Regions from separate parts of the Homo sapiens genome. Here region 1 is reported to be linked to region 2. The links are microRNA targets in miRTarBase. Many come from high-throughput screens and were not tested one by one. Region 2 holds a microRNA gene; the other region holds the end of a gene's coding sequence.
Evidence for each region. Region 2 holds the annotated microRNA hsa-miR-4327 (GGCUUGCAUGGGGGACUGG, at 4,802-4,820, shown strand). A microRNA usually pairs through its seed, bases 2 to 8, with sites in the 3' UTR of a target mRNA and lowers its output. Matches are read on the target gene's strand: a 7mer-m8 pairs with bases 2 to 8, a 7mer-A1 pairs with bases 2 to 7 and ends in A, and an 8mer does both.

Region 1: miRTarBase lists ELL as a target of hsa-miR-4327. Seed matches in the 3' UTR shown: 7mer-m8 at 737-743 and 7mer-A1 at 1,188-1,194.

Annotation. Positions count from the first base shown.
Region 1 is chr19:18,438,290-18,445,329 of GRCh38, reverse strand. It overlaps ELL (elongation factor for RNA polymerase II), which reads left to right. Exons shown (of 12, transcript NM_006532.4): 11 at 62-106; 12 at 462-2,667. The coding sequence ends at 578. Among named protein-coding and RNA genes, the nearest start is that of ISYNA1, 3.7 kb to the right of the region's middle. RefSeq lists a silencer at 3,470-3,519 and enhancers at 4,313-4,372, 4,533-4,652, 5,998-6,984, 6,985-7,040.
Region 2 is chr21:30,372,908-30,380,169 of GRCh38, reverse strand. It overlaps MIR4327 (microRNA 4327), which reads left to right and starts at 4,792; the gene lies at 4,792-4,876.

The DNA.
Region 1 (7,040 bases), not on the chromosome of region 2:
ATTTGGGTTTCCTGTAGGCGGGGACACATTCTGTTTTCTCAAAATTTTGTTTTTCTTCTAGACTACTCGAGGGCAGATTTTGCAGGAATATCGAAAAATCAAAAAGGTGAGTGTCTCTTGTGTTGGGGTGGGCTCCAAGTGAGCCATGGGAGCTGGAGGGAGGAGGGTGGGCCCGGGGCAGCCTCCCTGCCCGCTACTTCCAAGGTGTGGGGGAAGAGCCTTTGAGTCTGAGGCCAAAGTTGCCCCACCACCCCCAGCTAAGTCTTCAGCTGTGGCATCCTGGCCCAGCCACACAAGCTGTGGAGGTGCGGGGGACCAACTCCCACTCTGCCCTTGGACCACAACCCTCCTTGCTGGGCACCAAGCCCAGGTTTTTGGTTTGGGGGGGACACTGGCCTGCTTACAGCGGGGAGCAGCACCCAGGGCGGCTCTGTCCTGAGCATGACTGTGCTGTCCCACAGACCAACACCAACTACAGCCAGGAGAAGCACCGCTGCGAGTACCTGCACAGCAAGCTGGCCCACATCAAGAGGCTCATCGCCGAGTACGACCAGCGGCAGCTGCAGGCTTGGCCCTAGCCGCCCTCCCCGATGGCGGGGATCTGGGAGGGTCGGGGGAGCAAAAGGCGGTGAGAGAGGATTTATTTAAAAAAATAAACCCGAGGAAGATGCTCATCTGAGCCAGCACCGCCGGCTTTCAGGGCAGCCCCTGCAGACGTCTGGCCCTGGCGGGTGGCTGCAAGCCCACCTCGGCCCTCCCTGCGCTTCCTGAGCAGTCCCTGCTTATGATGGGCTCCCCAGGAAGCCCACTGCCTCCTCCCTGGCTGCAGCCTCCGGGGTTCAGCCTCCTGTCTCGCCAGAAGACTCCTAGGCCCTTGGGGTGGCGCGCCTGCCTTTTCTAGTTTTATACAAAGACAGCCACTTTTAGCTACTGCTAATGAGACTTGAGTCTATTTTTGTACAAAAGAGAAGCAAAATCTTTTTTCTAAACCTGTGCCTCCCTCTCCTCGGACACCCAGGGTCTAGCCGCTGCCCTGGGTCCTGCCTGCAGTATTACAGAGGTCGTCGAAAGGTGCAGCTGCGTTCTGAGGGCGTGGGGAATGGGCAGGTGGCCTCTGCTGGTCTCTGGCTCTACGTTTAGGCACCCCTTTCCCCAGCCTCTCCTCCTTGGGCAGGGTCTCTGCTCCAGCAAGCAAACAGGGTGGCCCAGGTGGCTATTTTGAGAACTCCAGCTGGTGCCCCCAGACAGCTGCTCAGAGCCAAGGGGGCAGAGGGCTTTCAGCGCCCCCAGGCCTGCCCTGCTATTTCAGGCCCTCAGCTGTCGGGGGCCACTGTGTTTCTGTGCTCCAAGTTGAGACTCGGCCGCAGCGGCGTCAGACTTTTCTTTGCGATGTCCTCGGTTTCCCATTTGTTGCTGCTGCTGCTCATTCCACACTGTTGAGACCTTGTGGTCTCGATGCTGCTGGCCTCCCTCCGTCCCTCTGTCCACTTGTGGGTCCTGGGGTCGTCTTAGCAGAGCCACCGCCAAGGTTTGCACTCAGGGAGGGGCTGATGGAGGGCTGGGCGCCATGGGGTCAGGGAGGCCCCAGGGACCCATGGGCAGAGCTGGGGAGCCAGGAGGATGGGTCTGCCTGCTCTGGGGGTGCAGGCTCTGCAGACACCCCAATTGCTGCTCTGTTGCTGTGCCTAGTCTAGTGTCCCCCAAAGCATCGGGGGGCCACGCAAGTGTGGGTGTGTGAGTGTGCGTATGTGGGGACCCCCCAGGGCATGGTGGGGTCTGAGGCGTGTGTTCCCATTTAGGGCTGAATGAAGCCATGACTTGGAAAGGTGGTGGGGGGTGGATGGCGGCTGTGACTCAGGGCCCAGGGATCACATGGGGGTCACTGCTGCCATCAGCAGTCAGGCAGGGAGAACAGAAATGCAAAAATACAGATGTCTATTTTTCTAAACTGGGGGGTGGAGGGGTGCCTCCTGACAGCTTCCAAAGAGCTGACTGTGGAGGGCCCACAGTGTATCCCACCCCTGCCCGAGAGTCTCTCTCCTTTGGGACCCCCGGGTTCCCAGAGCTCCGAGGAAACTGATCCTTCATGTTTCAATAGCTGTTGTTGTTTTTCTCTTTGGGCCGGGCCGGGCCGGGGAAGGGCCGAGCAGGCTCCAGGAGGCCTCCAGAGTCAGCTGGACCTTGCTGTGTCGCCCGCAGGCAGCCCTGCAGACACCGGTGAGGTGGGATGATTTCAGGAGGTCCCAGCCCGGGACTGCCCGCCCCTCTGCCCTGGGAACCAGTCCAAGGGGCTGTCAGTTGAATTTGCCTTTTTGTTGTTGTTGTTGTTTTTGTTGTTTATTTGTTCTCCTTTTAAGGAATTATGAAGCTAAGAAAAGTTTTGTGTTTTGGGGGTTGGTGGACAAAGTTCTAGCTGATTAAATATGGTCTAACTTATTGATACTATTTTTTTTTCTTTTAATGTTGTACTGTGGAGAAAAACTATTTTGAGCCATGGGGTTGGTGTTTACAAGAACTTTCCACTTTTGCCAAAATGTTACAATTGAAAGGCATCTATCTGCGTCTTCAGTTTCCTGATATTTTCTTAAAAGATCTAGTGTCCTTTTTGTACACTAAACAGGTGAATGCTGACTTTTTTCATTCTCCAATAAATTTCACTGAACTGAACCTGGCAGCCCAGGCTGCCTGGCTGGTGTGTGTGGTGTGTGGGTGTTGGTGTATCTGTGTGTGTGGTGTATGGTGTGTATGTGTGTGTGGTGTGTGTTGGGGTGTGTGGGTGTGTAGTATATCTGTGTCGGTGTGTGTTGGATGTTGTGTGTGGGTGTGTAGTGTGTGTGATGTGTTAGGGTGTGTGTGTTGTATGTGTGGGTGTGTTGTGTGTGGTGTGTGTTGGGGTGTGGGGTGTGTGGTGTGTGTTGGGGATGTGTGTGGTGAGGATGTGGTGTTTGTTGGGATGTGGTATGTGTTGGGATGTGGGTGTGTGTTGGGGTGTGGTGTGTGGATGTGGTGTATCTGGGTGTGTGGTATGAGGGTGTGGTGTGTGTTGGGGTGTGTGGTGTGGGGTGTGTGTGGTGTGTTGGGGATGTGTTGAGGGTGGGTGTGTGTTGGGGTGTGTGGGTGTGGTGTGTGTTGGGGTGTGTTGGTGTGGGTGTGGTGTGTGTTGGTGTGTGTTGACCGGATGTGTGGTGTGTGTTGGGGTGTGAGGGTGTGGTGTGTGTTGGGTGGTGTGTGGTGTGTGTTGGGGTGTGTAGGTGTGTGTGTGGTGTGAGGGTGTGGTGTGTGTTGGGGGTGTGTGTGTTGGGTGTGTGGTGTGTGTTGGGGTGTGGGTGTGTGTGTAGTGTGTGGGTGTGTCACAGCCTGGTTTCTGTGGTGGCTGTCCCTGTCCTGTGGTTGGGGGTGGGCTGGCATCAGGAGGTGATGTGACCTGGGGCCGCCATAATGATGAGAAAGGGTTGTTCAGGGGCTCTGGCTGGGACCAGATAAGAAGGCAGAGTTTGCAGCCTACCTGAGCCGTTGCCTGAGAAAGGACCAAATCAGAGGGCCCTGTAGGTGACGGGGAGCGCGGGGGTGGGGGCAGGCTGGGTCAGGGCGGAGGGATAGGGAGCCATAGCAGGTGTGTGAGCACAGCAGTACCCTCTGGTGTGGATAGGGTGGGCTGAACCCAGCATTGGGATTCCTTGGCCCCCTGTGGCACCAAAGGCTACAGGAGTGGGGCTGGGGGTGGGGGAAACCAGCTGTGACTGTCTCCCTCTGATGAAAGCAGCAGCAGGTAACGGTAATATTACCTGTTCTTCCCACACTGGGGCAGGGGCATCCCCTGTGCCACTAGTGGGGATGGGGAAAAGGCCTGACGGGAGCGGCGGTGGTGCAGGTGGAACGAGCCAGGGGCCATGGAGAACATAACACTCAACCTGCCAGCCAAGGACAAGAAGGGGTGCATTTAGTAAGCGATAACACCGAAGAATAGGACCGTGGGCAAAGGTCCTGGGCCTGCAGCTGTGGGGGGGGCCTGGCCTCCCTGCCCGTCCGTGGCCTTGGCCCAAGTTCTAAGGCCACCCAGGAATCTGAGGGGCGCGGGAGGGGAAGTCATGCAGCCCAGTGGGGCAGCGTGTACCCTGCTCCCAGCATAGCCTGGCCACGCTGTTCTCCCAGGATAACATCTCTGTCCCAACATCCCAGGGCCAACACCAACCTCCTGCAGCTCACGGTCCTGCCTCCCCCGGCCCTCCAACGCCAGCCCTAAGCCAACTGCCCAGCAATACTCTGGCCATCACCCCCGCAGCCTGCAGAGGCCACAGTCAGTCCCCTGACCTTCCTGAGCCATGGATGCCATCAGTCTAGTGCCCCGGATATTCAGGAGAGCCTTCCCACCCTCATGACCTGGGCACCCTGGTAGAGAGGGGCTCAGAGCTGTTAAACCCTCTCCTGCCACCTGCCAGGGGCCCCAATTGTCCTCTTTCAACGGGCACCCCTGTTCCTGCAGCCCCCTCCTGTACCAAGCTCCACCTGGGCTCTGCAACACAGCAGTGACTCAGCCTCATCCCTGCCTTCAGGGAGCCCACACTTTGCTGGGGAATAACAGTGCATCTCACCACCGACTTCAGCACACCCAGGCCTGACTGTAGGGGCCAAACCCCCTCCTTCGGCCTTGTCAACTGCTGGGAGTGGAAGCAGCCCAGCCTCTATGCCGATTCCCTCCAGCTGCCCTGTGCCAGCTCCCATCCTCCGGCACCCTCTACAGGTGGCCCTGTGAACACAGGCTCCCCGGGGCTGGGTCTTGGGACCTTCCTCATGTCTCTCAACTACACAGGTTCCTGAATCACGTGTCGCCTCGAGGCACAAACTCCCCGATTCTCTGATCCTCCAGTACCTACAGGATGTCCAACAGTTCCATTCCCAGAGATGGTATCGGACTCCACAAGTTATGGGGGTCAGTCCCACAGGGCTGCACCTGTGTCAGATGCCACCTATACTTCTGGCAAGCAGGCTAATAAATTGCGAGTTCCCATGACCCCACTTCAGGTTTGATAATTGCTGGAACAGCTCACAGAACTCCGGAAAATGCTCACAGCCAAATGGAGGAGGCGCACAGGGCAAGGTATGGGCGGGCCGTGAAGCTTCCATGCCTTTTCCAGGCATGCCACCCTCCCAGCCCCTCCATATTTTCCCCTAAACCCCATTTTTTTTTTGAGACAGGGTATTACTCTGTTGCCCAGGCTGGAGTGCAGTGGTACAATCATGGCTCACTGCAGCCTACACCTCCTGAGCTTAGGTGATCCTCCCACCTCAGCCTCCCACGCAGCTGGACTACAGGTGTGCGCCACCAAGCCCGGCTATTTTTTGTTTGTTTGTTTGTATTGAGACGGGGTTTCCCCGTGTTGCCCAGGCTGGTCTCAAACTCCTGGGCTCAAGCGATGCGCCCGCTTTGACCTCCCAAAGTGCTAGGATTACAGGCATGAGCCACCGTGCCTGGCTGACTGCCTATTTTTCGGCTTAGGTTCTATGAAGAATGTGTATCAATGTGTTGAAACACTGTAGATCTTAAAGGGAGCAGACTGGGTGGGGGAGGGGGGCCAGCCTGCCCAGACTTCCTAGACTCTGGGTAGCATTCCTTCCTCCAGGGTATGGGCAGGACCCTCCCGGAATGAGGGTCTTCAAGGGAGCAGGCAGAGAGTGACCTTTGCCGGCTTTGTGGCTTTTTTTTTGTTTTAAGGGGAGAAGGGCTCCAGTGTCTCTGACCTGCCTTGGGGAAGAGGAATTCTGGTTTCTATGGTTTCCAGGGGAGAAAGGGGCTAGAGGCAGGAGGGCAGGAGAAGGTCGGAGAGACTCGATTCTGAGCTTTCCGATGCCCTGCTCAAAGCGCGGGGCAGGCCAAGGCCCCATAACTTGAGGCTGAGGGGAGTTTCTGTGTTCTGAGCCCCAACTGTCTCATTTGCATATATGTGATTGATTAAATCGTTGGCCACTGGTGATTGAGCTCAATGTCTAACCAAGAACCAGGAACAAACACCAAATACTCTTTCACACTCCCTATCCCCAGCCCTCAGGGTCTGCCCAAGACCCCAAACTGCCTCCCACGTAGCCAATTTTTCATCTGCCCTGTCTGGGTGGCTCAGGTGGCTTGGCCTGTAGTTTTCTTTCAGTGAACTCCTCTTCATGTCTCAAAACCCTTGCCAGCAGCCCCCTCATCTGGGGAGCCTGTCTTGCAGGGGCCCTGCCTGTGAGTTCCCACCCACTGGGGCGGGGGTGTCCCAGTCCACTTCCAACTCCCTCAGACTGGGGCCCCTTCAGGGTGAGGCCTGGACCCAGAGTCTTAAGCCCTCATCCTCCAAGGTCAGGCCCTGTCTCTTGCAAACGTTCCCAACTATCCACCTTTTGGGCCAGCTCCAGTGGTGGAAACTTTCCGGCCTCCAGGCGCTTGTTTTGGAAAGTTCCTGGGGGAGCTGCCCCGGCCTGCCCGCTGGGTTCCCACGCTCCCTTATCAGCGCGCATGAGGGGGGCGCCCTGCAGTGCAGGCCTCATTCCTCCCCTGCCTCGGCCCTGCCCGCCTGTGCGTCCCCTCCCCTTTCCAGCGAACAGCCTCCCGCTCCGGCCCACTCCTGCCAAGCCCTCCTGCTGCAGGTGGGGAAACAGGCCAAACAGGCCCCATCCTTGTGAGCCCCGTGGGGACAGAGTGACTTTGTCCCCCGAGATGGATGGGGGCGGACATGGGGAGCCAGGGGATGGGACTGCCTGGTAGGTGCTGCTGCCCACGAAGGGGGAGTAGGTGGCAGTGTGGCTCCGAGGAGATTCTGGCTTTGGAGTTCTGGTCCTCTGCCTGTTTCCCCTGCAGTGTCTCTGACCCAGACCCCCTACCTACCCCCCCGGAGGCCCAGCTTCCCTGCCCAGCTCCACCCCCTGGCTTGTGGCTGGGCTCATGTGTAGCCTCATTGTCCTCTTGTAAAGGGGGGATAGGCAGCCATGAGCCCCTGGGGGCTGCGGAGCGAGCGAGGTGAACCTATACGCGCCGCGCTCGTGGACGCCTGGCCACTTCCGCCAGG
Region 2 (7,262 bases):
TGATCCAATCACCCCCCACCAGGCCCCTTCCTCAACATGTGGGGATTATAATTCAAGATGAGATTTAGGTGGGGCCACAGGGCCAAACCATATCATTCTGCCCTTGGCACCTCCCAAATCTCATGTCCTTCTCACATTTCAAAACCAATCATGCCTTCCTAACAGTCACACAAAGTCTTAACTTATTCCAGAATTAACCCCAAAGTCCAAGTTCAAAGTCTCATCTGAGATAAGGCAAGTCCTTTTCTGCCTATGAGCCTGTAAATCAAAAACAAGTTAGTTACTTCCAAGATACAATGGGGGTACAGGCATTGGGTAAATGTTCACATTCCAAGAGGGAGAAATTGGCCAGAACAAAAAGGATACAGGCCCCATGTAGCACAGCCATTAAATATTAAAGCTCCAAAATAATTTCCTTTGAATTCATGTCCCACATCCAGGACACGCTGATGCAAGGGGTGGGCTCCTAATGCCTTGGGCAGCTTCTCTCCTGTGGCTCTGCAGGTTATAGTCCTCATGGCTACTTTCACAGGCTGGCATTGAGTGTCTGTGGCTTTTCCACACACACAATGCAAGCTGTTGGTGGATCTACATTTCTGGGGTCTGGAGGATGGTGGCCTTCTCATGGCTCCACCAGACAGTGCCCCAGTGGGGACTCTGTGTGGGAGCTCACACCCCACAGTTCCCTTCTGCACTGCCCTAGCAGAGGTTCTCCATGAGGGCTCTGCCCCTGCAGCAGACTATTGTCTGGACTTCCAAGCATTTACATATATCCTCTGAAATTTAGACAGAGGTTCCCAAACCTCAACTCTTGTTTTCTGCACATCTGCAGGCCCAATACCACTTGCAAGCCACCAATGCTTGGGACTTGCACCCTCTGAAGCAACAGCTGTAGCTATACCCTGGCCCCTATCAGCCATGGCTGGAGCTGGAGCTTCTGGGACACAAGGCATCAAGTCCTGAAGCTGCACAGAGCAGCCAAGCCCTGATCCTAATGTATGAAGCCATTTTTCCCTCCCAGGCCTCCAGGCCGGTGATGACAATGGCTCCTGTAAATGTCTCTGACATGCCCCTGAGACATTTTCCCCATTGTCTTGGCTATTGACATTCAGCTCCTCGTTGCTTATGCAAATTTCTGCAGCCAGCTTGAATTCCTCTGCAGAAAATGGGTATTCCTTTTCTATCACATGGTCAGGCTGCAAATTTTCCAAACTTTTATGCTCTGCTTCCTTTTTAAAATAAGTTCCAATTTCAAAGCATCTCTTTGTGAACACACATAACTGAATGCTTTCAGAATAAGCCAGGTCACATGTTGAATGTTCTGCTGCTTAGCAATTTCTTCCACCGGATACCTTAAATCATCTCTCTCAAGTTCAAAGTTTCACAGGTCTCTAAAGCAGGGGAAAAATGCCACTAGTTTCTTTGCTAAAGCATAGCAAGAGTGACTTTGCTCCAGTTCCCTATAAGTTCCTCATCTCCATCTGAGACCACCTCAGCATGGACTTCGTTGTTCATATCACTATCAGCATTTTGGTCAAAACCATTCAACAAGTCTCTAGGAAGTTCCAAACTTTCCCACATCTTCCCGTCTTCTTCTAAGCCCTCCAAACTGTTCCAACCTCCTCCTGTTACCAGTTCCAATGTCGCTTCCACATTTTCAGTTTATCTTTATAGCAGTACCCAACTCTGCTGGTACCAATTCTCTGTATTAGTCTGTTATCACACTGCTATGAAGATACTACCTAGGACTGGGTAATTTATAAAGAAAAATGGTTTAATTGACTCATAGTTCCTCATGGTTGGAGAGGCACCAGGAAATTTACATCATGGTGGAAGGTGAAGGGGAAGCAAGGCACATGTTACATGGTGGCAGGAGAGAAAGAGAGTATACACAGGCAGAAACTGGGACTTTTAAAACCATCAGATCTCATGAGAAATCCCTCACTATCATCAGAACAGCATGGCGGAAACCGTCCTCATGATCCAATCACCTCCCACCAGGTCCCTTCCTTGACATGTGGGGATTATAATTAGAGATGAGATTTGAATGGGCACACAGAGCCAAACCATATTACATATGTCCACAAAATTATCTGTATGTGAATGTTTATAGCAGTTTTATCCACAGTAACTCCAGACTCAAAATCATCTAAATGTCCATTTTCTAGTGTATAGCGTACATACAATGAAATACCACTTGGCAATAAAAGGGAATAAACTACTGGAATATGCAACAACATGGATGAATTTCAAAAGCATTATGCTCTGTGAAGGAAGTTAAACACAGAAGGCAACGTAATGTGTAATTCCTTTTATCATGCAGTTCAAAAAATAAGACTATAGGAACAGAAATTTAGATATTGGGGAAGCAGATTGATCCAAAGGAGCACAGGAGAATTTCTAGAAATAATGGAAATACTCTATCTCAATCAATTGATGATTACATAACTATATATGTTTGTCAAAACTCATTGAACTGGGAAGCCAAGGCAGGAAGATTGCATGAGGCCAGGAATTCAAGACTAAACTGGACAACACAGTGAGAATCTGCCTCTACAAAAAAAAAAGAAAAAAAAATAGCTAGGGGTTGTGGTATGCACTTATAGTCCTAACCACTCAGGAGGCTGAGGCAGGAGAATGACTTGAGCTCAGCAGTTGGAGGCTACAGTGAGCTATGATCACACTACTGCACTCCAGCCTGGGCAACAGAGCAAGCCCTTGCCCCCTCCACCAAAAAAAGAACAGAAAGGAAAAAACCCATTGAACTGTACTCCTAAAAATGGTGCATTTCATTTTATGGGAACTGTGTATCCACAGATCTGACTTTACAAAAGAGTCAAACAACTGACCAGAGGAATATATTAGCAACATATGAAAGACAAAGGCATACAAAAAGAATGCACAAATTCTCTAAAAATACATTTAAAAGAACAAATGACTCCATAGAATAATGGCTAAAAGATAACAAAATATGAGAAACTAAAACAGGTCTGAGTTACACAGCTAAGTGATGGAGCTGGGATTCAAACTCTGCCAGCCTGAATCCAAAAGCCTTGATCGTAACTACCATGCTAGAATTGAAATTATGTATGTCCAGCAATTGCATCTAAATATACATGTTCCAGAAGCCCTAGACAGTAGATGCAAGGGCCTATATAGAAGTATATTTCTTGCCACATGGTTTGTGATAGTAAAAAATCAAGAATGGTAGAGCGATATATCAATAAAATATTTTTATACAGTAGAATTCTATAAATTTGTAACAAGGAATAAACTAGATGTGTGTATCATAGCAACATGGTTATTTGCATAAAGTCTGACAATGGTGTCAGTATTGCAGTTCAAATCTCATCTCTGCTACTAACTACATGGGTAGCTTTGGCAAGTAACTCAATCTGTTTGTGTCTCAGCTTCCTCAGCTATAAAACAAGAATAAAAGTGGTGTGTACCATGTAGAATTATTATGAGGATTGAGTTAATATTTGTAATACAGTGCTGAGAACAGTGCCTGACATTTAAAAGTTCTACTGTAGTGATAATAAATGCACAAATATATAAATATCAACTTGGATATGTTTTAGATATTTTTATTTAAATAAATTTAATATAAAAAGAAAGCTACAGATACATATATGTATCCAATAAGATGGCATTTTTGTAACTTAAAACAACAATAAATGGTATAAACCGATAAATATATGTATAGACAATTTCCTGGAATGCTATGCAAAAACGAATGCATTATTGTGATGCCTTTGGAAAGATATGAAAAAGAATCAGACTGAGAGACTGGCCCACAAGGGGTCTCTCTCTGTAAGATAGCGAATAGAATGGTGGTTACCATAGGCTTGCAAGGGTAGTGGAAAGAAAGGACAGAGAGGTGTTGGTTAATGGGTGCAAAAATATAGTTAGATAGGAGGAATAAGATCTAGTGTTCAGTAACACAGTACAGCAACTGTGGTTAACAATAATGTATTGCATATTTCAAAATAACTAGAAAAGTAGATTTGGAATGTTCTCAACACAAAAAAAATGATAAATGTTTAAGGTGATGGATATGCCAGTTACCCAGATTTGATCATTACACATCGTGTGCCTGTATCAAAATATCACATGTACCCCATTAATATGCGCAACATTATGTATCCATAAACATTTAAAATAAAAAAGAGAAAGATGAACGCAAATCTGACAACGTGGTAACAATTGTGAGTTTAGGCATCCAGAAAATGACTCTAGAATTTACTTTAATTTTCTATTTGTTTTCAGTAAATGCAAGGGTAAGGTCTCAGAAGAGATAAGAAGAACCGAGAGGTGTGTAAGCAGGCTGTTTATAAATCTTTTTGTTTGTTTGTTTGTTTGAGACGGAATCTCACTCTGTCGCCCAGGCTGGAGTGCAGTGGCATGACCTTGGCTCACTGCAACCTCTGCCTTCCAGTTTCAAGCGATTCTCCTGCCTCAGCCTCTCCAGTAGCTGGGATTACAGATGTCTGCCACCACGCCTGGCTAATTTTTGTATTTTTAGTAGAGACGGGATTTCGCCATGTTTGAAAGGCTGGTCTCAAACTCCTGACCTCGTGATCCACCTGCCTCGGCCTCCCAAAGTGCTGGGATTACAGGCGTGAGCCACTGCGCCCAGCCTGGCCTTTTTATTTCAAACGAAAGTCATGGATGATGAAGACATAAAATGGATGAATTTGAAGCAGGAAGAGCTGTAGTGAAGTTAGAGGAGGTGCCAGGGCCTGGAAAAGTCTCAAACAATGAGGCCGGATGACCTCCGAGAAAGCCACAGGCCTGGGTAGGCTTGCATGGGGGACTGGGAAGAGACCATGAACAGGTTAGTCCAGGGAGTTCTCATCAAGCCTTTACTCAGTAGTGGGTTCTTCATAGTTAGCATTAATGTTTAATAGATACATTTCCCCTTGGGTGAGAATTTTAAAAATAAAATCTAGTGTAAAGCAGCTGTTATGAAGACTCTTTAGTGACCAGACAATAAAAGCCTCTCCTAGGTCTAGAGAAGGCAGAAAATTAAAAAGTGAACAGAAAGTAAAAAGGTGGCCGGACGCGGTGGCTCACGCCTGTAATCCCAGCACTTTGGGAGGCCGAGGCGGGTGGATCATGAGGTCAGGAGATCAAGACCATCCTGGCTAACATGGGGAAACCCCGTCTCTACTAAAAATACAAAAAATTAGCCAGGCGTGGTGGCGGGCACCTGTAGTCCCAGCTACTCGGGAGGCTGAGGCAAGAGAATGGTGTGAACCCGGGAGGCAGAGCTTGCAGTGAGCCAAGATTGCACCACTGTACTCCAGCCTGGGTGACAGAGCCAGACTCCGTCTCGGAAAAAAAAAAAAAAAAAAGAAAGTAAAAAAGGTATAGGGCAGTATATATGGATTTTTACTATTTCTACTACTGCCTAATATTTGGTTAATTTGAAAGCTTTTGAAGAATCTCTGGAAACATTGCAATAGAAGATTGTCAGTTTAAAGCTTCTGCTACATTACTATGTTAACTTGGAAAAACAATCACTTTTCAAGTAATTCAGATCATAGGCTACTTGTGGCTACTGTGTACTGTAATGATAGTTTTATTCTCTGTAGTGTTGTTATGCCTAAATTTCTAAAGAGAAAAGAGAAAGAAGAAAGAAAGAAAGAGAAAAGAAAGAAAGAAATAGAAAGAAAGAGAAACAGAGAAAGAGAGAGAGGGAGAAAGGGAGGGAAGGAGGCAGAGAGAGAGGGAGGGAGGGAAAGAAAAGAAAGAAAAAGAAAAGGAAAGAGAGGCAGAGAAAGAAAAGAAAGAAAAAGAAAAAGAAAGAGGGAGGGAGGGAAGGAAGGAAGGAGAGAGAGAGAAAAGATTTCAATATCACGTTTTCCCTGACATATCAAGATAGTGAATTTTTCTTTCTATACTAATACTTTGCCTGTGTATGTAGAGTACGTAGAGTATTTTATTAGTTCCAGAATCCACTTTTGAACTGTTAAGGCTACTCTAGTTTTGTTCTGCTTTTTCTGCCTTTCAGATGGACACATTTATTAGCATTTGGGAGTTGTTCATTAGCATTTGTACAAAGTGCACAAATAACTCCTAATAAAAAGTGTTAACCCAATTAGGAATGGGTGGAGGGACTGTTAATTGGAACTGACTTACTCCCAAGTTATTTTAGTGTTTATTCCCAGACATAGGGAGCTGGTCTAGAAAGGCAAGAACTTTTGGATATTAGTAAGTTTTTTGTTTTCTTTTTTTTGAGCAGAATCAACCTGTAGTAAGAAAAGAAAAATATTTCTCATTTTAAAGGTGTTAAAAGCTGCCATTATAAGGAATCCCATGTGTTGGGGGTGGTGCATACTTTTTGGTGAATTTAATAGGTGTCCATTCATAAAGCACAGCTTATTTTACTTCAGTGAATCAGAGTGATGGTTTAAGTATTGCACAAGGGCACTTCATGTGATGCATGCCACACTTTGGATTCTGCATGGGAGAGATAATCATAAAACAAAGTAACTAAGTGCTCTGAAACAGTGTGCTTTGGAATGAAGGAAGTTAATTTTCAGGTAGTTAAGAGGCTCTCTTTTCGATAACCATTGTGAATGCCATTTCCCTTAGTTAAACCAAATAAAATGTCAAATTCAAAAGAAGAAGAATAGACACAGATAAGAAGCCTCTTCCCCCCATTAATCTAAACATGGATTACCAATATTCTTTCTCTTTCTTGGGCTAGGAAGTGAAATATACTTCAAATGTATGAAGATCAGTAAGGCATAGAATTCCCCAGTTGAACACTATTCAGTGTGAATATTGTTAGGAAAAGTAAATAAGGCTTTGTTAGGCTTTTATATCTTAGTATAAATAAGCTTAATAGTTTCTTTTCTGAGACAAGTTAAAGTTGAATTTACTTTTATATTTGCAAGGTATTTGCAACTTGACTCTGAATAAGAAAACCATAATTAAAGCTTCAATTTTGCTTCTATCTTACTGAGAAATTAGGGGAAAGTTAAAGCTCTCTGAGAGGTAATTTTTCCATGTATGGGTTGAACAGGGGATGTTTAAAGACCCATATAACTCTAATACTTCAAGTTAAAAGCTTCAGAAAAATGTTAACAATTCCTCAAAGTTTAAGTATAAATTAATAATTGCAGCTAAGAATCTGTCCTTTTATCCAGAAAAAAAAATTGAAACATAAAACAAAATAAAATTTATGAGTTGATTTAGAGCATAACCATAGAATAGTGCTTGCTACAAGATAGGTTCATCAGAAAATATCTGAA